Regions from separate parts of the Homo sapiens genome. Here all the other regions are linked to region 1. Evidence: fine-mapped expression QTL. A gene starts in region 1. Each other region holds a variant in brackets. All regions are shown on one strand. Distances are between the middles of the regions.

What was found. PIP is the estimated chance that this variant, and not a neighbour inherited with it, causes the effect.
Region 2: its variant is fine-mapped to the expression of RUFY1 in transverse colon (GTEx, PIP above 0.99). The same link has a PIP of 0.9 or more in coronary artery.
Region 3: its variant is fine-mapped to the expression of RUFY1 in whole blood (INTERVAL, PIP above 0.99).
Region 4: its variant is fine-mapped to the expression of RUFY1 in whole blood (TOPMed, PIP above 0.99).

What each region holds. Positions count from the first base shown.
Region 1 is chr5:179,548,407-179,553,550 of GRCh38, forward strand. RUFY1 (RUN and FYVE domain containing 1) reads left to right here and starts at 2,148. Exons shown (of 18, transcript NM_025158.5): 1 at 2,148-2,473. The coding sequence starts at 2,164. The region is part of intron 4 of LOC128966623 (a long non-coding RNA gene); the gene reads left to right. LOC105377762 (a long non-coding RNA gene) reads right to left here and starts at 2,098. Exons shown (of 4, transcript XR_941315.4): 1 at 1,538-2,098. RefSeq lists a silencer at 2,073-2,782.
Region 2 is chr5:179,511,236-179,516,379 of GRCh38, forward strand. It overlaps the pseudogene LOC100128622. Among named protein-coding and RNA genes, the nearest start is that of RUFY1, 37 kb to the right of the region's middle. RefSeq lists an enhancer at 2,889-3,736. The variant C/T (reference allele first, on the strand shown) is at 2,357.
Region 3 is chr5:179,622,777-179,627,920 of GRCh38, forward strand. It overlaps HNRNPH1 (heterogeneous nuclear ribonucleoprotein H1), which reads right to left and starts at 895. Exons shown (of 14, transcript NM_001257293.2): 1 at 819-895; 2 at 261-388. The coding sequence starts at 357. The region is part of intron 4 of LOC128966623 (a long non-coding RNA gene); the gene reads left to right. RefSeq lists enhancers at 667-836, 892-1,186, 936-1,721, 1,722-2,506. The variant C/G (reference allele first, on the strand shown) is at 3,027.
Region 4 is chr5:179,605,948-179,611,091 of GRCh38, forward strand. It overlaps RUFY1 (RUN and FYVE domain containing 1), which reads left to right. Exons shown (of 18, transcript NM_025158.5): 17 at 1,635-1,712; 18 at 3,429-4,065. The coding sequence ends at 3,572. The region is part of intron 4 of LOC128966623 (a long non-coding RNA gene); the gene reads left to right. Among named protein-coding and RNA genes, the nearest start is that of RUFY1-AS1, 4.8 kb to the left of the region's middle. RefSeq lists enhancers at 802-1,302, 1,303-1,803, 1,871-1,930. The variant C/T (reference allele first, on the strand shown) is at 2,485.

The DNA of each region.
Region 1 (5,144 bases):
TTCCACGCCCTGATCATTATAAACAAACTTTTCACCTACATAAATGTCCAGTAGCATTGGAAAGTCATGAAGGATTCGGGACAATGCTGTTATTCTAGACTATCTTCATCCCTGTCTATGCATCCAGTAAAGACTAGTAGGGCCGGGCTCAGTGGCTCACGCCTGTAATCTCAACACTTTGAGAGGCCGAGGCGGGGGAATCACGAGGTCGAGAGATCGAGACTATCCTGGCGAACATGGTGAAACCCCGTCTCTACTAAAAGTACAAAAATTAGCCAAGTGTGGCGCCACGCCCCTGCAGTCCCAGCTACTTGGGAGGCTGAGGCAGGAAAATCGCTTGAACCCGGTAGGCAGAGGTTACAGTGAGCCGAGATTGCGCCACTGCACTCCAGCTTGGTGACAGAGCAGGACTTGGCCTCAAAAACAAACAAACAAACAAGACCAGGCCGGGCGTGGTGGCTCACGCCTCTAATCCCAGCACTTTGGGAGGCCGAGGCTGGCGGATCACGAGGTCAGGAGATCAAGACCATCCTGGCTAACACGGTGAAACCCCGTTTCTACTAAAAATACAAAAAAAAAAAAAAATTAGCCGGGCGTGGTGGCGGGCACCTGTAGTCCCAGCTACTCGGGAGGCTGAGGCAGGAGAATGGCGTGAACCCGGGAGGTGGAGCTTGCAGTGAACCGAGATCGCGCCACTGCACTCCAGCCTGGGCGACTGAGCGAGACTCCGTACGAAAACAAACAAACAAAAAAGACTGGTAGTATGCCCTCAGTCATTACACAACTCAAACACCAACTCCACAAATTCCCAAAACACTCCTAGATGAAGTGGTATCCCTTCACTGAGAACTGGCCTTTCAGGGACCAGACATATCATGCAACCTAGTGAAGTGGGCTGGACCAAGACAGGTCCAGGGAGCAGCTGGGCGTCTAAAGGGGCAGCACAGTTTATTCCCAACAGTTTGTTGCCATCTGGGAATATGCCATGAGTTACCAAATATTCCAGTGATTCCAGAGAAAGCTAAAATCCAGATTCTTATGTGAAATCTTTTGATTTCTAAATATTGGCAACAAGTTTTAAGATTTGTAAACATTCTGGGAATCAAAACAGCTCTGCTGGTTTGGTGTGGCTCATGTTGCCTCACTTTGCAAAGTGTTAAGTGCTAGTAAATTTTAGTGTTTTTTCTGAGACAGGGTCTCACTTTGTCGCCCAGCCTGGAGTGCAGTGGCCATGATCTCCGCTCACTGTGGGATCGACCTCCCGGGCTCAAGCGATCCTCCCACTCTCAGCCCCCCAAGGAGCTAGGAGTAGAGCTGTCCCGCCACGACATCTGGCTGGTTTTTTGTTGTTGTTGTTGTTGTTGTTTTGGTATTTTAGTAGAGACGGGGTTTCGTCCTACTAAAGGCCCGCCTGGGCCTTCCGAAGTGCTGGGATTACAGGCGTGAGCCACCGCGCCCGGCCAAAATTTTCCTTTGTACTTACTCAAATTCCTTTCTTTTCCAAGTGAAGAAACAGACTGAGTGTATAGTGACTTACCCAGGCCACACAGTTGGATACCAGAGATAGTAGTCACAATCGCTAACATCTGCCATGTGGTCCTTACTGCAAATCTTATTTAATAATGAGGTCGGTTTTTGTTATCCCACTTAACTAATCAATAGGAGAAGCCACCTCTGATTTCCAGTCCACTATCGTGCACTCTTTCTTGCCAAGCCGTCATAGTCATTAGATTAAAAAAAAAAAAAAATTCCTGCTTTCCTGCCTCGCCTGTGCGTTTCCTTAGTCGCCCTTTCGGGGCTTGTTCTAATGAGTGCTACAGAAAAATGACGAAGTGGAAAATATAGACCATGAAATGAAAATTTAAAAGAGGAAATGGTGTCACAAAGACAACGACGGCCAGGGAACCCCGTGAAGCGCCGGGCAGGGTGCACAACTGTCCTCGGAGAAAGTTCAAGAGGAACTTCCCCGCGAACAGGTCCTGCCGGCGGCCGGGAATACGCACACTTTTTATGTTATGACTTGGACTTTCCCGAACCTTTCGAAACAGAGGGAAGGCGAGGCGGTGAAGAGGGAGAAAAATCTCCCCCACCTAAGGCAAAGGCGATGCCCGCCCGCCCCCACCCCGCGCCCGCCCGCCCGCTGGGTCACATGACACGGCCAAGATGGCCGACCGGGAAGGCGGCTGCGCTGCTGGGCGGGGGCGGGAGCTGGAGCCGGAGCTGGAGCCGGGGCCGGGGCCCGGGTCAGCGCTTGAGCCGGGAGAAGAGTTTGAGATCGTGGACCGAAGCCAGCTGCCCGGCCCAGGCGACCTGCGGAGCGCAACGAGGCCGCGGGCGGCCGAGGGCTGGTCGGCGCCCATCCTGACCCTGGCACGCAGGGCCACCGGGAACCTGTCGGCGAGCTGCGGGAGCGCGCTGCGCGCGGCCGCGGGGCTGGGCGGCGGGGACAGCGGGGACGGCACGGCGCGCGCAGGTAGGCTCGGGCCGGGTCTGTCCCGCGGCGGACTCGCGTGTCCCCGCTGGCCGCCGGCGCGGGCGCGGTGGGGGCCGGGCTGGGAGGGCACTGGCCGTTCCGGGAGGTTACGCGAGCTGTTGGCGGGCGGGCGGCGCCTGGCTGCGCCTGGGTCTTTACTCCGGCGGCCCAGCCGAGACCGCCCCCCGCAGCCCCGCGTGCCTGAGCGCGCTCCCGCACCCGCGCCTCTATGCTCTCCCACTAACTAGGTGAAGGACGTGTGCGCGTCCGGGCTTCGGAACTCTGTAGTAACTCCACACACGAAACGGAGCCAGCACTGTTCTGCTTTTCAGCCGTTCAGTGCGGGAGTGGAGCGCCGGCGGGTGTTGGGAGGGCGTGGGCCCTGCGCGCAGCGGACCAGCGGCGCCTCCGCTCACCTCTGCCTGTGAGATGGGGATTTTAAAGTCACCCGATGATCTCTTAAAGACCTTTTCAGCCCTTGTAATGAACAGAGTGCCAGCATATCAGTGATAGTAAGAGTTAAGTAACTTAGCCCTCTAACGCCAGACATCCAGAGCTGTGCTATCCAATACAACAGCACGCATATGTTTTTGTGTGTGTGTTTTTGTTTTTATTTATTTTTATTTTTTTGAGACCGGGTCTTGCTCTGTCGCCCAGGCTGGAGTGCAGTGGTGCGATCTCGGCTCACTGCACCCTCTGCCTCCCGGGTTCAAGCGATCCTCCCTCCCGCCTCAGCCTCCCGAGTAGCTGGGATTACAGGTGCCCACCACCACGCTCGGCTAAGTTCCCCGCCCCCACCCCCCTCCCATATTTTTAGTAGAAACGGGGTTTCACCATCTTGGCCAGGCTGGTCTTGAACTCCTGACCTTGTGATACACCTGCCTCGGCCTCGTAAAGTACTGGGACTACAGGCTTGAGCCACCGCGCCCGGCCGGATTCCTCAATTTCTAACTGAATCAATTGAAATTCAGTACTTTTAAATTGAATTAAAAATTGAGTTCCTCGGCCGGGAGCGGTGGCTCACGCCTGTAATCCCAGCACTTTGGGAGGCCGAAGCGGGTGGATCACGAGGTCAAGAGATCGAGACCATCCTGGCCAACATGGTGAAACCCCGTCTCTACTAAAAATACAAAAAATTAGCTGGGTGTGTTGGCATGCACCTGTAGTCCCAGCTACTCAGGAGGCTGAGGCAGGAGAATCGCTTGAACCTGGGAGGCAGAGGTTGCAGTGAGCCGAGATCGCGCCACTGCACTCCAGCCTGGGTGACAGAGCGAGACTCTGTCTCAAAAAAAAAAAAAAAAAAAAAAACTTGTTCCTCGATTACAGCGGCCACATTTTAAATGCTCAGTAGCCTGTGTGTGGCCAGTGGCTACTGTATGAGATAGCACATAATAGAACATTGCCAACTTCATAGAAAATGCTGGGACAGAGCTGAGGAAAGGTTGTGGTGCCTTCCAAGGAGCATCATAGCACACACTCGAGGCTTCCTGATTCCTCCCCATCCACTGGTACCTTTGCTGTAGATGCACTGACCCCAGGTAGTGAATTGTGAGATTTTCAGTGGTCAAGAATAATTACTGAGTAAAGTTGAAAGGCTGACTCGTTTTGAGATCCTGGCAGTGGAAAATAGCATTAGAGGATGATGAGAGCCTGGGCAGGCCGGGAATCTACTGCCCTCTAGCTTGACACCTTTTCCCGAGACTTTTCCACACATCAGTGGATGCTGAGTTGCATACTCATTGACAGTCAGTACTGAAAGTCAAGGCATGGCGTCTCCTGGAGGCCTCTTAGATATTTCGTGGCAGGAGTAAGCAAATAATAAAAGTTCTTCCCTGCTAGAATTTCTTTCCTTTAATGCAGAATCAAGGAAAAAATTAAAAAGATAAAATGAAATGTGTCAGTACCTGGCACAGAATAATAAGTGTTTGCTGAACAAATGCATATTTGAAAAATACCTGTGTTCCATCTATGGAAGTGATAGAAACAATAGCCAACACTTATATTGTCCTTCAAAGGTGCCAGGCATTAGTCTTAAACCTGTACAAGTATTCATTCATTCCTCACAACAACCCTATGTGATAGCAGGACTAGCTTCATGGGTGGACAGTCAATGCAGGCTTTGATCACTCTGGTGGAAAGGGCCAGGCACTCAGAAGTATCCCATGCTTGAAATTCTTAATTTTATCTTTGAATTTGTGTTTTTTAAGTGAAGTCCAATGGGACAGGTTCTCAGTTGCCCTGGCCCACTCGAGCTGCCCTGGGGCTTCTCCCTACCCTCCCTGATCCCACTCTTGCCCAGGCAGCGTTGGGATTGCACCCTCCGAATCTCAGGGCAGGGTGGCTGGTACCACAGCACATTAGGCAGGCAAGTGGGCAGGGGCCTCTCACCTGTCCCATCCCTGCAGGGAAGTTGCAATCCATTAGGGCTGTAGTAAGGGGGAGTCTGACTTCTGTGCTCTGCTCCAGGCCGGGAATTTTGCACTGGGCCTTGTAAATCATGTAGATGGCACAGGGTGATGAGTACCATTATTATCCCTATTTTATAAAGAGAGTATTAAAGAGAAGTAACTTCACCAACTGCAAAATGTCTATATATATATCCCATATGGATTTAAAAAACTAGGCCGGGCATGGTGGCTCACACCTGTAATCCCAGCATTTTGGGAGGCCG
Region 2 (5,144 bases), 37 kb before region 1:
AATTTTTTTGTATTTTTAGTAGAGACAGGGTTTCACCGTGCTGGCCAGGCTGGTTTCAAACTCCTGACCTCAGGTGATCTGCCTGCCTCGGCCCCCCAAAGTGTTGGGATTACAGGCATAAGCCACCGCGCCTGGCCATTTTTTTTTGTATTTTTAGTAGAGATGGAGTTTCACCATGTAGGTCAGACTGGTCTCGAACTCCTGACCTCATGATCCGCCTGCCTCAGCCTCCCAAAGTGCTGAGATTACAGGCGTGAGCCACCGCACCCGGCTGAGTTGCTCCCACCTTTTATCTATTGTGAATAACACAGCTATCGACAGGGATGGGCAAGTGTCTCTTTATTTCCTTGCTTTCAATTTTTGGGGGATATATACCCAGAAGTGGAATTGCTGGAGCGTCCCTAGGTGTAATTTCCGAGGAACTGCCTTACTGTTTTCTAGAGGGGCGGCACTATTTTACATTCCCACCAGCAGTGCACAAGGGTTCCAGTCTCTCCACATCCTTACCAACATTCGTTATATTCTGGGTTTTCTTTGATACTAGTCAATGTAGTAGGAGTGAAAAGGAATCTCGTTGTCATTTCCATCTCCCTAATGATTAGTGATGCTGAGTATGGAGAAATGTCCATTCGAGTCCTTTGCTCTTTTTTTTTTTTTTTTTTTTTTTTGAGAGGGAGTCTCGCTCTGTCACCCAGGCTGGAGTGCAGTGGCGCGATCTTGGCTCACTGCAAGCTCCGCGTCCCGGGTTCACACCATTCTCCTGCCTCAGCCTCTTGAGTAGCTCGTACTACAGGCGCCCGCCACCACGCCTGGCTAATTTTTTGTATTTTTAGTAGAAAAGGGGTTTCACCGTGTTAGCCAGGATGGTTTCCATCTCTTGCCCTTGTGATCCGCCCGCCTTGGCCTCCCAAAGTGCTGGGATTACAGGTGTGAGCCACCGCGCCCAGCCTTTTTTTTTTTTTTTTTTTTTTTTTTTAAGACAGAGTCTCACTCTGTCACCCAGGCTGGAGTGCAGTGGCGTGATCTCGGCTCACTGAAACTTCCACCTCCTAGGTTTAAGCGAGTCTCCTGCTTCAGCCTCCCAAATAGCTGAGATTACAGGCATGTGCCACCACACCCGGCTAATTTTTGTAGTTTTAGTAGAGACGGGTTTCACCATGTTGGCCAGGCTGGTCTCGAACTCCTGACTTCAGGTGATCTGCCCGCCTCGGCCTCTCAAAGTGCGAGGATTACAGGCGTGAGCCACCGCGCCCAGCCTTGCTCATTTCTGAATTTGATTGTTAGGTTTTTGTTATTGAGTGTGTTTTTTTAATTGAGTGTAATATTCATACAGAGAAGCCACCAATCCCCAGAGGGCAGCTTGGTAAATTATCGTAGAGTGAATACGTCTGGGACACCAGCCCTCAGATCAAGAAATAGAATATTACCAGAGCCACCCTCCCCCAGAGCACTAAGATAATCGCTATCCTGACTTCTCACCAGATGTTTCTTTGGCCTGTTTTAGGGCTTCGCAGAAACAGAATCGTGCCGTACGCATTCATTTGTGTCTGGCTGCTTCTGCTCAACAGTATGTTGCTGAGATTCACCAACTGTGCATGGTGGCTGTGAATCCATTTTCAGTGCTGTAAGAATTTTACTCTATAAATATACTGAGAGGTACTTATCCACTCTCCTGTTGGAATTTGGGGCTATTGTGAAGGGTGCTGGTATAAACATCCTAGTGCACGTCGCACGTCATTTGGTGAACACGTGCACAGTGCACAGTTCTTTTGGGTCTATGCGTAAGAGTGGAATGTGGGGATCACATGTGTGGTCTCCTTTAGTAGGTATTACCCAAGGGTTTTCCAAAGTAGTTGTGCTATTTTACATTCCCAATAGTATATGAAGTTTCAGTTACTCCACATTCTTGCCCAAACTTGGTATCAACAGTGTTTTTAATTTTAGCAATTCTGGTAGGTGTAATATTGGTTTCTCACTGTGGTTTAAATTTGATGGCTTATGAGGCTGAGCATGTTTTAAATGCTTTTTGGCCATTTGGATGTTCATTTGCTCTTTCCTCTCCCTTCCCCCCTCCTCCCTCCCCCCTCCCTCCCTTTCTTCCTTCCCTTTTTTGTCCCTCTTCATTTCTTTCACCCATTGTCCTATTGGTCTGCCAGCTTTTTTCTTAATTTTTTAAAAAACTTTATTTAAGTACTGGGATACATGTACAGAACGTGCAGGTTTGTTACACAGGTAAACATGTGCCATGGTGGTTTGCTGCACTTATCCACCCGTCACCTAGGTATTAAGTCCCGCATGCATTTTTCTTATTAACTTACAGGAATTCTCTTTATACTCTACATGTGATTTATCTTTT[C/T]ACCCTCCTCCATTCCCCACCTCTTTTTTTAAGAGACAGAGTCTCACTCTGTCACCCAGGCTGCAGTGCAGTGGCACAATCATGGCTCACTGCAGCCTCAGCCTCCCAGGCTCAAGTGTTCCTCCTGCCTCAGCCTCCCAAGTATCTGGGACCACAGGCATGCACCACCACGCCCAGCCAATTTTTCATTTTTCGTAGAGACGAGGTCTTGCTAAGCTGCTCAGGCTGTTCTCTAACTCCTGACCTCAAGTGATCCTCCCGCCTTGGCCTCCCAAAGTGCTGGGATACAGCGTGAGCCACCACACCCGGCCCCATCTTTTTACTCTCTTATTGATGAAAAAATTCTTAATTTTACTATCATCCAATGTATCTGTAGGGGTGGGTTGCCCCTACACACCTGTGGGTGTTTCACGTAAGGTGGGACGAGAGATTTGGAAAAGAAAAAGACACAGAGACAAAGTATAGAGAAAGAAATAAGGGGACCCGGGGAACCAGCGTTCAGCATATGGAGGATCCCGCCAGCCTCTGAGTTCCCTTAGCATTTATTCATCATTTGTGGGTGTTTCTCGAAGAGGGGGATGTGTCAGGGTCACAAGACAATTGTGGGGAGAGGGTCAGCAGACAAACACATGAACAAAGGTCTTTGCATCATAGACAATGTAAAGGATTAAGTGCTGTGCTTTTAGATATGCATACACATAAACATCTCAATGCTTTACAAAGCAGTATTGCTGCCCGCAGGTCCCACCTCCAGCCCTAAGGCGGTTTTTCCCTATCTCAGTAGATGGAGCATACAATCGGGTTTTATACCGAGACATTCCATTGCCCAGGGACAGGCAGGAGACAGATGCCTTCCTCTTGTCTCAACTGCAAGAGGCATGCCTTCCTCTTATACTAATCCTCCTCAGCACAGACCCTTTACGGGTGTCGGGCTGGGGGACGGTCAGGTCTTTCCCTTCCCACGAGGCCATATTTCAGACTATCACATGGGGAGAAACCTTGGACAATACCTGGCTTTCCTAGGCAGAGGTCCCTGCGGGCTTCCGCAGTGTTTGTGTCCCTGGGTACTTGAGATTAGGGAGTGGTGATGACTCTTAAGGAGCATGCTGCCTTCAAGCATCTGTTTAACAAAGCACATCTTGCACCGCCCTTAATCCATTTAACTCTGAGTTGACACAGCACACGTTTCAGAGAGCACGGGATTGGGGGTAAGGTTATAGATTAACAGCATCCCAAGGCAGAAGAATTTTTCTTAGTACAGAACAAAATGGAGTCTCCCATGTCTACTTCTTTCTACACAGACACAGTAACAATCTGATCTCTCTTGCTTTTCCCCACATTTATCAATCATTTTCTTTGGGGATAGTGTTTTGTCTTATTGAAGAAATTTTTACCTGCCTCCTAAGGAGCCTTAAAAATCTCCATATGCCCACAAAGCCCCACTGTTCTAACGTCTATTTTGTGCTAGAAAATAAACGAGGCACTGTCCCAGAGGCTATGCCTATCTTGTGGGAAAACTGTCTTCATCATCATTTGCTAAGCTGGGAGATGATCGGGATGAGGACAATCTCCATGGCTCCCGGCATCTGATCCCTTCCTGCATTAGAGAGAGTGGGCCTGATGCCATCGTGGGCCCAGCCCCACCTGCACCCCACGGGGAAAGGGCAAGAGGAATGGAGAAGGTGTGGTGTCCTTGGGCAGAGCCAGCCCAGAGATGTGGTTCTGCAAACAGAATGAGGGTACAGATGAGTCTGCCTGCATCGCCACGGGGCTCCGGGGGCTGCAGGAGGTGGGAGAGAAGCAGGTAGAGGAGGGATCCAGCAGGAAGAAGAGCAGAGCATTCTCCCTGGAAAGGGAGAAAGAAGGACGCACCTTTCATTTAACAGCTCAGTGTTCCAGTGACCGGAGGTGAGGTCGCAGCTGCTGGTCCCACAGAGCCTGTCTCTGGCGTTAGTTGTTTAGATGTCAGAATTGGTGAAAAGTTTGAGATTGTACCAGCTGGTCCGGGAAAGGTGATGGGGGAGCTATAAAGCTTGCGGCAGGGCAGTCAGGGATGACCGGTGCACAGGGGCTCCAGGGCACATGAGCCACACGGTGCTTAGGGCCAGGCCTCCCAGGAGTGACCCAGACCAGCCTTTTCTTTCTCATCCTCTCACTCTCTGAATTCAAAAGCTTGAACATGCCACGAAATGTCCACCCAATAAAAAGAAAGTATTTGCCTACTGGGCTCAGACATGGTATTAAGGAAATTGCAAATCTACTGACTGTGACAGAAAGCAAATCAGTGGCTGCTTGGGATGGGGGGGGGTGGGAGGGGCTGTAGGGAGGGATTCCAAAGAATCATGAGGAAGCTTTGGGAGTCGTGATGCTCCTGGTCATGGTTTTGCGGGTGCGTACGTGTGTTAACATTGATCAAAAAAATTTGTTTTTTTTGAGATGGAGTTTCGCTCTTGTTGCCCAGGCTGGAGTGCAGTGGCACGATCTCGGCTCACTGCAACCTCCACCTCCTGGGTTCAAGTGATTCTCCCGCCTCAGCCTCCAGAGTAGCTGGGATTACAGGTGCCCGCCACCATGCCTGGCTAATTTTTTGTAGTTTTAGTAGAGATGCGGTTTCACTGTGTTGGTCAGGCTGGTCTCGAACTCCTGACCTCAGGTGATTCACCCACCTCGGCCTCCCAAAGTGCTGGGATTACGGCGTGAGCCACCATGCCTGGCTTGTTCTCTTGTATGTCAGTTACCCCTCCATGAGGCTGCTAAACATCTTCCCAGCACACACACGCACAGACAC
Region 3 (5,144 bases), 74 kb after region 1:
CTGCCAAACCTGCCGCACTCCCCCAAGGGCCAGGAGGACGGGCGGGGCTTTCGAAATTTCCATTGCGTAACAGCGGGCCGCCGGGCGCGAGCAGCACAGCGGTGAGTGTAGTCGCCCGCGCCTCGCCAGGGGGCGCCCCGGGTCCCACCCGGCCCGGCCCGGCCCGGCCCGCCCCGCCCCGCCCCGCCCCAGCCCGGCCGCCCGCCAGCCCGCCCGCCCCGGCCTCGAACTCGAACTCCCGCGTCCTAGTTCTAACTCACCAGAAAAAAACCTCTGCACTTCATCGGCCGAGCAAGACCAGGGCAAGCCCCGGACCTTCACCACGAATCCCTCTCCACCTTCCGTGCCCAACATCATCGTCTCTTACGCGGTCCGGCGTCGAAACAAACTGCAAAGCGGGGAGGACCAGAACTGAGAGCGCCAATTAAGCTGTCCTTCGCCTCCGAGGCGCGCCCGGGCCCGCACCGCCCCCCCACGGAGCAAAAACCGGGCGGATGCACCCACCCCGGCGACTCCAACACCTCCTCGTCCGGCGACCGGACCCCCAAAGCTGTCCTGAGCAACAGCTGTCGGCGCCCCGAACCGTGGGGGCCCGGGCCGAGAGCCAGCGTAGAGGAAAGGAAATGGCGGCGGCCGCTTCCGCTCCGCCTCCTCCGACTTCTCACACAATAGAGTCGGCGCGGCCTGCAGGCCTCAGCGGCGGTGCCGAGATTCAGCGAACCACTCGCGGCTCTCGACGGCAGCCTGCAGCTCGCCAAGGTCCCCGTGGCCCTCCCAGAGATATGGGGACAAACAATCCTCGCAAAAACGGTACCCACCGTGGTCGCTGAACTGCAAGCGAGGACCCACCGCGACTCACCTAGACACGCGACTTCTGCGTGGCTAAGACGAAATGGCCAGCGGGCGCCTGCGCAACCTAAATAAGGTCCCTTGTGCGAGTTCTGCGCACGCGCAGCCAGCTGCCCGCACCGCCCCGTTGCGTCACAAAGAGCTCTGGCGCATGCGTAATTTCAAGAGCCAGCCCACCTCCCGCCGGCGGATTATTACACGCTTGGGTTTTGGGCTCAGCACCCCCACCCATAAACCCGCCGGGCTTTTTGTTGCGCCTGCGCCTTCCCGCGAATATTGAACTTCGGAGTCCTAGCGGTTTATAATTATTTCATGCGCATGCGTCTTCCTTGAAACCGTTCTCTAGCCTTACCCGCCAGCGTGGGGGAGGGGAATGGCGGCCGCCTGTTCCCTATGGGACTGTATAGGAGTCCCGAGCTCTGGGTTGTGATGAGGTGGGCGTCTTTCTACCCCTTGCCCCCAGGCTCTTACCGGCGCGCTCCTGGCCGACCTGAAAGGAGGGGCGCGGCCTTCAGGCGTTCCCACTCCCCGCGCCGCCTGTCTTCCCTTTATCCCCAAACCGGCCGAAGCTGGTCAGCTGCAGATTGTCGAACGTCCTGGGAGCTGCGGGGCTGCGGACGTCCCGCGCCCGAAGCCACCCGTATGGTGCCTGGGGCACGTCCCAGCCCTGTGTGCCTCCACTTCCCCTTACCTGCCGTCGTCGGGCCTAGGGCCCCGGTCGGCGCGAGGTTTCCGTGCCTGTGGCTCGCGCCTGTACCCAGCTTTTGCCTAACGAATTCGCACCCTGTGTACCCCTTGACCCGCCTAACGGTCGGCAGGCCTTGACTGCCCTGGGGCCCTGGCACGAGGAGGGATCGCGAGCGCGGGCTCCACGGGTGCGCGCCGGCCTCTGCGCTCGGTAGGTTACCGCTGCATCTCCCAGAGCAGAATTGGTAAGAGTGCGTCCATTCACCAGGCGTAGACGCTGCATTCGAGGAGGCCCCCGGGTCACCCCATGTGCACACATGCTGCGAGATGACTAATGTTCGTGGTTTCTAGCAGCACTGCCCAAAACCTAAGATGCCGTAGCCTCCCAGGCCTCCCCATGTCTGATTTGGCTGCCTTCCTCACCCCAGCTTTAGTGGACACAGACAATACACAAATTAACAATAAGGTAGTGCTGGACCCTGCCGCAGAGCTACCTTAGCTAGTGCAAGCCTGAGTGCCACCCTGGGAAGATGCGGACAAAGCATGTTTCCAACCCCAGTGCCACAGAGTCCGAATCCAGTTTTGACAGGTTTGAGAAAAAGTAGAGAGGACATCAAAAGAAAGACAGGAGCCCAGAGCTAAGCAGGGCCTGATCTTCAAAGGCCACTTAGGCCTTGGCAAGGGTGTTATCTCCGAGAGAAGGCTTTGGCAGGTGATCAGCAGGGGAGCCGTAAACCCTGTGTAAAGGAAAACTCTTGCTGGATGTGAGGGGGATGCAGATGGAGCAGGCAGGGTGAATGACGGTACATACCAGGCCCTCTACTACAAACTGAACTAGAAGCACACACCTGTGGTACCATTTCAGAAGGCACTTTGGCTGAGGTAATCAAGAAGAGAGTCCGGCCAGGTGCGGTGGCTCACTCGTGTAATACCAGCATTTTGGGAGGCCGAGGCAGGCAGATCACTTGAGATCAGGAGTTTCAGACCAGCTTGGCCAACATGGTGAAACCCCATCTCTACTAAAGATACAAAAATTATCTATGCATGCACACGCCTGTAATCCCAGCTACTCTGGAGGCTGAGGCAGGAGAATCACCTGAACCCAGGAGGCAGAGGAAGCAGTGAGCTGAGATCACACCACTGCCCTCCAGCCTGGGCTACAAAGACTCCCTCTCAAAAAAAAAAAAAAAAAAAAATTAGCCAGGCATGGTGATGCATGCCTGTAATCCCAACCACTTGGCAAGACTGAGGCAGGAGAATCACTTAAACCCAGGAGGCAGCAGTTGCAGTCAGCTGAGATCACGCCATTGCACTCCAGCCTGGGCAATAAGAGCAAAACTCCGTCTCAAAAAAAAAAAAAAAAAGAATAGTAGTAAGGTAGAATACATTTCATACACTTATAGCCAATTCTCTTATATATAAATTGTCCAACTTATATTAAAACAAGGTTTTTAAATTTTTATTTTTTATTTGTTTGTTTGAGACACAGC[C/G]CGTCACCCAGGCTGGAGTGCAGTGGTGCAAACATGGCTCACCACAGCCTCTACCTTCTGGGCTCAAACAATCCTCCTGCCTCAGCCTCCTGAGTAGGTAGGACCACAGGCATGTGCCACCTTGCTCAGATTATTTATTTATTTATTTATTTATTTATTTATTTTTTGTAGCAATGGGGTCTCATTTTGTTGCCCAGGCTGGTCTTGAATTCTTGGGCTCAAGGAATCATTCCACCTCAGCCTCGCAGAGAAAGTGCTGGGATTACAGGTGTGAGCCACCATGGCTGGCAATGAAAGGTTTTTTTGTTTGGTTTTGTTTTTGAGACAGTCTAACTCTGTCACCCAGGCTGGAGTACAGTGGTGCAATCTTGGCTCACTGCAACCTCTGCCTCCTAGGTTCAAGCAATTCTCATGCCTTAGCCTCCCAAGTAGAGGGATTACAGGTGTGTGCCACCACACCTGGCTACTTTTTTTTAAGTTTTAGTTGAGATGGGGTTTTGCCATGTTGGCCAGGCTGGTCTGGAACTCCTGACCTCAAGTGATCTGCCTGCCTCGGCCTCCCAAAGTACTGAGATTACAAGCATGAGCCACCATGCTCGGCCAAAGGTTTTTTTAAATAAAAAGTTAATCATCAGCCCACGCGTGGGGCTCATGCCTGTAATCCCAGCACTTTGGGAGGCCGAGGCAGGTGGATCAAGAGTTCAGGAGTTAGAGACCAGCCTGACCAACATGGTGAAACCCCGTCTCTACTAAAAATACAAAAAGTAGCCGGGCATGGTGTCGCGTGCCTGTAATCCCAGCTACTCAGGAGGCTGAGGCAGGAGAATCACTTGAACCTGGGAGGTGGAGGTTGCAGTGAGCAGAGATTGCACCACTGCACTCCTGCCTGGGCAACAGAGCAGGACTCTGTCTTTAAAAAAAAAAAAAAAAATTCATCATCTTGCCTCAGTGGTCTTTATGTCTTGGTATACTTCTTTTTTTTTTTTTTTTTGAGACGGAGTCTCGCTCTGTCGCCCAGGCTGGAGTACAATGGCGCGATCTCCGCTCACTGCAAGCTCCGCCTCCCAGGTTCACACCATTCTCCTGCCTCAGCCTCCCGAGTAGAGTAGCTGGGACGACAGGCGCCCGCCACCACGCCCAGCTAATTTTCTTGTATTTTTACTAGAGACGGGGTTTCACCGTGTTAGCCAGGATGGTCTCGATCTCCTAACCTCATGATCCGCCCACCTCGGGCTCCCAAAGTGCTGGGATTATAGGTGTGAGCCACTGCGCCCGGCTAATGTCTTCGTATACTTCTTACAGTTTACAGAGCTCTTTATTAAGGCTGTTAGCCCTTAGGATAGTTGCCCCAGACATTCTTCTCAGTTTGCTTACCTTTTAATTATTTTTGTGGTTTTGTGGTGGTATTTTTTGTTTGTTTTACAGACAATGTCTTGTTCCGTGCAGTGACACAATCATAACTCACTGCAGCCTTGAACTCCTGGGCTCAAGCCATCCTCCAAGCTCAGCCTCCTGAGTAGCTGGGACTAAAGGCACTTTCAACCAGGCCCGACTAATTTTTTTTTTTTTTGTAGTGATGGGGGTCTCACTATGTTGCCCAGGCTAGTCTTGAATTCCTGGCGTCAAGCAATTCTCCCACCTTGGCCTCTCAAAGCCCTGGGATTATTCTACATGTGAGCCATGATGCTCGGCCCTGATTTATGCCTTTTTTTTTTTTAAGACAGGGTCTCACTTCGTCACTCAGGTTGGAGTGCAGGTATGTGATCTCGGCTCACTGCAACCTCCACCTCCCGGGTTCAAGCAATTCTTGTGCCTCAATCTCCCAAATTGCTGGGATATGCCAGGTGCAATGGCTCACACTTGTAATCCCAGCACTTTGGGAGGCTGAGGTGGGTGGATAACTTGATGTCAGGAGTTTCAGACATGTTGGCCAACATGGTGAAACCCTGTCTCTACCAAAAATACAAAAATTAGCCGGGCATGGTGGTGGGCGCCTGTAATCCCAGCTACTTGGGAGGCTGAGGCAGGAGAATCACTTGAACCCAGGATGTGGAGGTTGCAGTGAGCAGAGATCCTGCCACTGTACTCCAGCCTGGGCAACAGAGGGAGATTCCATTG
Region 4 (5,144 bases), 58 kb after region 1:
TCTTTGCTGTCAGCTTGTGCTGACTGCCCGTGTGCTCGTACGTTTAAGTATCCCAACAGTCAGGTGAGAGCGTGTGGTTGAGGCAGTGGTGATGACGTATTGACAGAGAAGCCAAACGCTGCTCAGAAACGTGTCCCTCGGCTGAGGGCGATGCTGACAGGTGGCCGAAGCTGAGCCTAGGTCTTCCGACTCCAGTTCCTCCACCATCAGCTGTGCTTTCAAAATAGGCCTGATGGGCATTCCCTAAGGGGGAAGCAGGTGGCGGAGAGGAGGGACCCGCGGATATCTTTAAACAGTGGAAAACAGGCCCTTCTGTTGAAGTGAGGGGCCAGAGGCCAGCCAGCCCCACTGCAGTGCCCTGTGCCATTGCTAGGGACCACTCAAGCCAAGCCCTGAGTTGGGCCAGGTTTCCGCACCCTGGTGGGGAGGGCAGAATGACACATTCCACCGAAAAGCAGGAGTTTGCAGGTGGCCCGGTGTGGGTGCGGGTGCCAGGCTGAGCTGCAGGGCGGAGAGTGTGGGAGAGGAGGCAGACATTCGGGGGCACGGCAGCCTGGCCTTCAAGACAGCCTTGCCTGCAGGAGCACCCCGCTTCGGCCTCAGCTGTGCCGTGGCAGCAATGCAAAAGCAGTCCCTTTGCACACTGTTCCACGTGGTGCAGAGCAGGGACCCTGATGTCTCTGGGCATCTAACTTCCAAGTGCCAGGTCAGGGGCAGCAACTAACAGCAGCCGGGACTTCTAGGTAATATCAGTTTCACAGCATCAGAGGATAGAAATCATAAAACAGGACTCTAGAGCCGCCAGAGCTCTTTGATGTCAGGATGAATGTCCTGGGCACACACTGGCAGCCCCAAGGGTATATGGCTCTAGCTCAGTCTGTGAGGATCTATTTGTCAGCAAGAAAATCTTGTCCAGCAGATGTTAACAGGCCAGAAAAGTACCTCATGCCTTTGACTTCTCTGGAACACCCCAGTCCCTAAGCCCAAATAAATCACAGGTGCTGCTTCGCCCTGAGAAAGCCCTCTGAGGGGCCACCTTTCAAAGCCTCAGCCGCCTCCCCTGTGGAATGGAGTCCATGTGCTCCCCAGGGCTGGTCAAGAATCAGGGCTTTGGCCCGCATGGAGAAGGGCTTCCTCAGGCCTGTGGGACGCAGTGCCCGCTGTCCATCACCTTCTGTCTCTCCACAAGGATCAGCGTCAACAAGTGTCTTAGTCTCACTCAGATTTGGCCCTTCTTCCGCGCCTGCCAGTTCAGCTAGCACTTCGGCCAGTGTCTCAGGCAGGGTCTAGGGTTGCAGGCACCAGAAGCTCGCTCTGCTTACTTCAGCCAAAGGGAACTGATTGAAAGTGGGAGTGTGCCTGAGTGAGCAGATGCTGGAGACCGCCTGGAGGCCCCAGGGCAGCCTGCAGAGGCCAAGAGGTGGAGCACGGAGCTAGGATGCAGAAATCCCGGCTGCGGCCAGACGGGGAAAGAGCCCCTTGATGACAGTCCTGTGAGGCCCCATCTGATGGAGAAACAGTGCCTCACTAGGAAACAGGTGCTATGAGGGACAATGGATGTGGCCAGAACGCAGCTACCCACTCATCAGGGGCTTAGACAGAAAGTGGATTCTAGAATGTCCTTTCCTCTTCAGGGCCACGCCTGGCTGAAAGATGACGAAGCGACACACTGTAGGCAGTGTGAGAAGGAGTTCTCCATTTCCCGGAGAAAGGTACGTGGGGGCTCCACCCACCCTCCCAGTGCCCTGAGTCGTTGCCCGCTGGATTCCCCTTTCTCTGGTTCCAGAAGCCCATATCAGAGCAGGCTCACTGCCCGGTGACTGTGCTGACTGTGGCAGATGGGCAGCCCCGCCTCTCCTGTTTGCCTGTGCAGATGGCTTTCCATCCTGGCACCCTCTTTCTGGGAGGCCTTGGCCAGTCATAGGCCCCTGGTCTCCAGCACATCCTTTCAGTGATTGACAATGATTTTTGGGGAGATGGGGCTCCTTGTGTGCAGAGCTGCTCTAGGGGAGTGTCATTGAAAATTCTCTGTATGCGGCAGGAACAAAATCTGGCCCAACTTAGGCAAAAACAATCTATGGGGAACCTACAGGGCAGCAGGTCACCAAAAATCACTAGTGATCTAGGCAGCGTGCTTGCCCCTGCCCTTTAGGTTCTGGAAACAAGGTCCTAGGCTCACCCTTGGGTCTAGGGTTGACTGGGCCTTATTAACAGTCTCACCAAGACCAGCTGGGTAGGGGAAGAGTTGGGTATAAGCAAAACTGGGAGCTAAAGGAAACACTGCCAGCGCCACCCACCTTTCTGCCACAGCCATGTTCTGTCTGTTCCCATCAACAGCCTAGCTCTGTGGAAGAGAGGAAGCCACAGCTACCCCACCCGCTCCCCAACCCGAGTTTCAGGCAGTGCCTTGCAGTAAGCTCAGAGCTAGAAACCACGTCCTGAGGCTGCCTTTGAGATCACATGTGTCTACAAGGCCTGGCTGTC[C/T]CCATCTGTGGAGTCAGAAGCAGAGGCTGCACAGGTGCTCATCTTGATGTCTTATCAGGCACCCAGGGAACCTGTTTAGAAAGGGATCTACTCCACCCCCTTGGAATGCAGCAAAGAGAACGAACCAGACTCTTCCTGTAACATGGACTAGCAGCTCACTGGCTTAGTGATGAAGTACAGCAAAAGTAAACTTTTTGTCTTAAAAACACCCTTAGGCCGGGCACGGTGGCTCATGACTGTAATCCTAGCACTTTGGGAGGCTGAGGTGGGTGGATCACGAGGTCAGAAGTTCAAGACCAGTCTGGCCAAGATGGTGAAACCCCATCATCTCTACTAAAAAAATACAAAAACTAACCGGGCACGGTGGCAGGCACTTGTAATCCCAGCTACTTGGGAGGCTGAGGCAGGAGAATCGCTTGAACCCAGGTGGCAGAGGTTGCAGTGAGCCGAGATTGCGCCACTGCACCCCAGCCTGGGCGACAGAGACTCAAAAAAAAAAAAAAAAGCCGGGCGCGGTGTTTCACGCCTGTAATCCCAACACTTTGGGAGGCCAAGGCGGAGGCAGATCACGAGGTCAGGAGATCGAGACCATCCTGGCTAACATGGTGAAACCCCGTCTCTACTAAAAATACAAAAAATTAGCCAGGTATAGTGGCGGGCACCTGTAGACCCAGCTACTGCCGGAGAATGGCGTGAACCTGGGAGGCAGAGCTTGCAGTGAGCTGAGATCGCGCCACTGCACTGCAGCCCGGGCGACTGAGCAAGACTCTATCTCAAAAAAAAAAAAAAAAAAAGACCCTTGTTTGCACACAGCCCCTCACCACCCCACAGAAACATAAGAACCCATTCCCAGCAAATGATGCGCTTCTGGGTCAGGAAGCAGGGAGGGTGTGCGGATGGCTTTTCCCCGGGTGTCCTGTGACCGCCTTCTTCCCGTCCTGTAGCACCACTGCCGGAACTGTGGCCACATCTTCTGCAACACCTGCTCCAGCAACGAGCTGGCCCTGCCCTCCTACCCCAAGCCGGTGCGAGTGTGCGACAGCTGCCACACCCTGCTCCTGCAGCGCTGCTCCTCCACGGCCTCCTGAACGTCCGTCCTCAGGAGCACAGCCTCACGGACAGTGCCAAACCCTGTGGGTCTCCAGGGGCTTGGGAAATGTGTTCTTTCCCAAGAGTATCAAAGGAAAGAATCAAATTTCTTGCCCGGTCACTGGCACTCCAGAAGACAGCGTGCCGGAACCGGCAGCTCTCACCTTTCTGTGACTTGTTCGGAATTAACTCCTCTGGATGGAAACTTCCATCTTACTTGGTTACATCACGGCTCTGGTTCAGATACAACTTCATGATTTTGCTACTATCATTTTTCACTTTTCAAAGAATTTAACCTATTTTACAGCAGTTCAGTTCTGCTAGTGAGTAGTTTTCCTCTCCTACCTTCCTTCTAAAAACCTGATTCATGCACAGCGTTTGACACACATGGAGTCTGCCAGTGTGCCTTCTCTGCTTCAGACAAGAGATCTGCCATTTCATGCCCTTGTGACTACCTATCATTGGCCCTGCAATAAAATCATTTATTTTTCACTCTGGTGCGTGCAGAAGCTTGTGTCAACTTCCAAAGAGCCCACCGCACCGGAGGAGGCCTCAGAGCGCCCCTCGTGCCCGAGCCCCGTGTGAGTGAGAGGCTGCTGGTGCTGCCCCAGAGCCTGCAGGGCAGCCTGGTGAGCCAAGGGCAGTTTGCAGGGTCAGCCTGCCGTCAACAGGCAGAGGAGGTGACCCCAAGCCTGTCACCAAAGTGCAAGAGTCGTTCACGTACATAGTTGGGAGTTTGATAGGTTACAGATGGAGACACCTGTGAAAAGGCACGTGCCAGGCAGCCATTTTTCACATTTCAAATGCAGCGCTACGACTGGCTTCCAGTCCCTCCCTCGGAGGCCCCCACCCCCAAAGATCCAATGGCCCGGGGCTCCCTTCCGGTAGAGACAACAGCATTATCAAGTCCAGACAGCCAACAGTCAAGTCTTCCAGGCCTCATCCTTCTCCACCTTCTATACACATACCTTGTCCGCGACCCTACCCTCCCTTCCCACGGGCTTCCTACCCTCGCCAAATCCAGGCCTCAGGATTCCACTCCTCCTTTGGGCTCTTCCTCCGAAGCAGGCTCCCCCACGACCTGGTCAGCCCTGGTAGATGCTTGCATGGCACCCTCAACTGAATTCCTCCTCTGCCGCTCCCTCCCCTCAAACCGCTCTGAAGATGGAAAAGGTGGGAGCTTGGGCAAGACTCAAGGATTCCCCCTCCATCCTATACCGCTTAGGACTGTGCGGCCAGACTTCAAGACGAGGTCCGCCCTGCTCCAAAGCCATGTCCTAGCAGGGTTCCAACCCTATTAGGCAAGCACATTGGCAGCCCTCCCCTTTCCTCACCCCTCACCGTAACAGCTGCCGTCTCATACAGGGCCAAACTTTCAGAAAAAACTGCCTATCACTCACTACCCCTAACTGGCATATATGACATCTGTGCCTTTTCAATACACCCAGTTTGGACCCCTAACTTGCTGGGCAGCCTTAGGCAAGTCAGTTCACTTGAGTCTTAGCTCTCATCTGCACACACAAAAGCAGAATAATCTATCCCTCCCCTACTTCAAGTCTGTTCTGACAGCT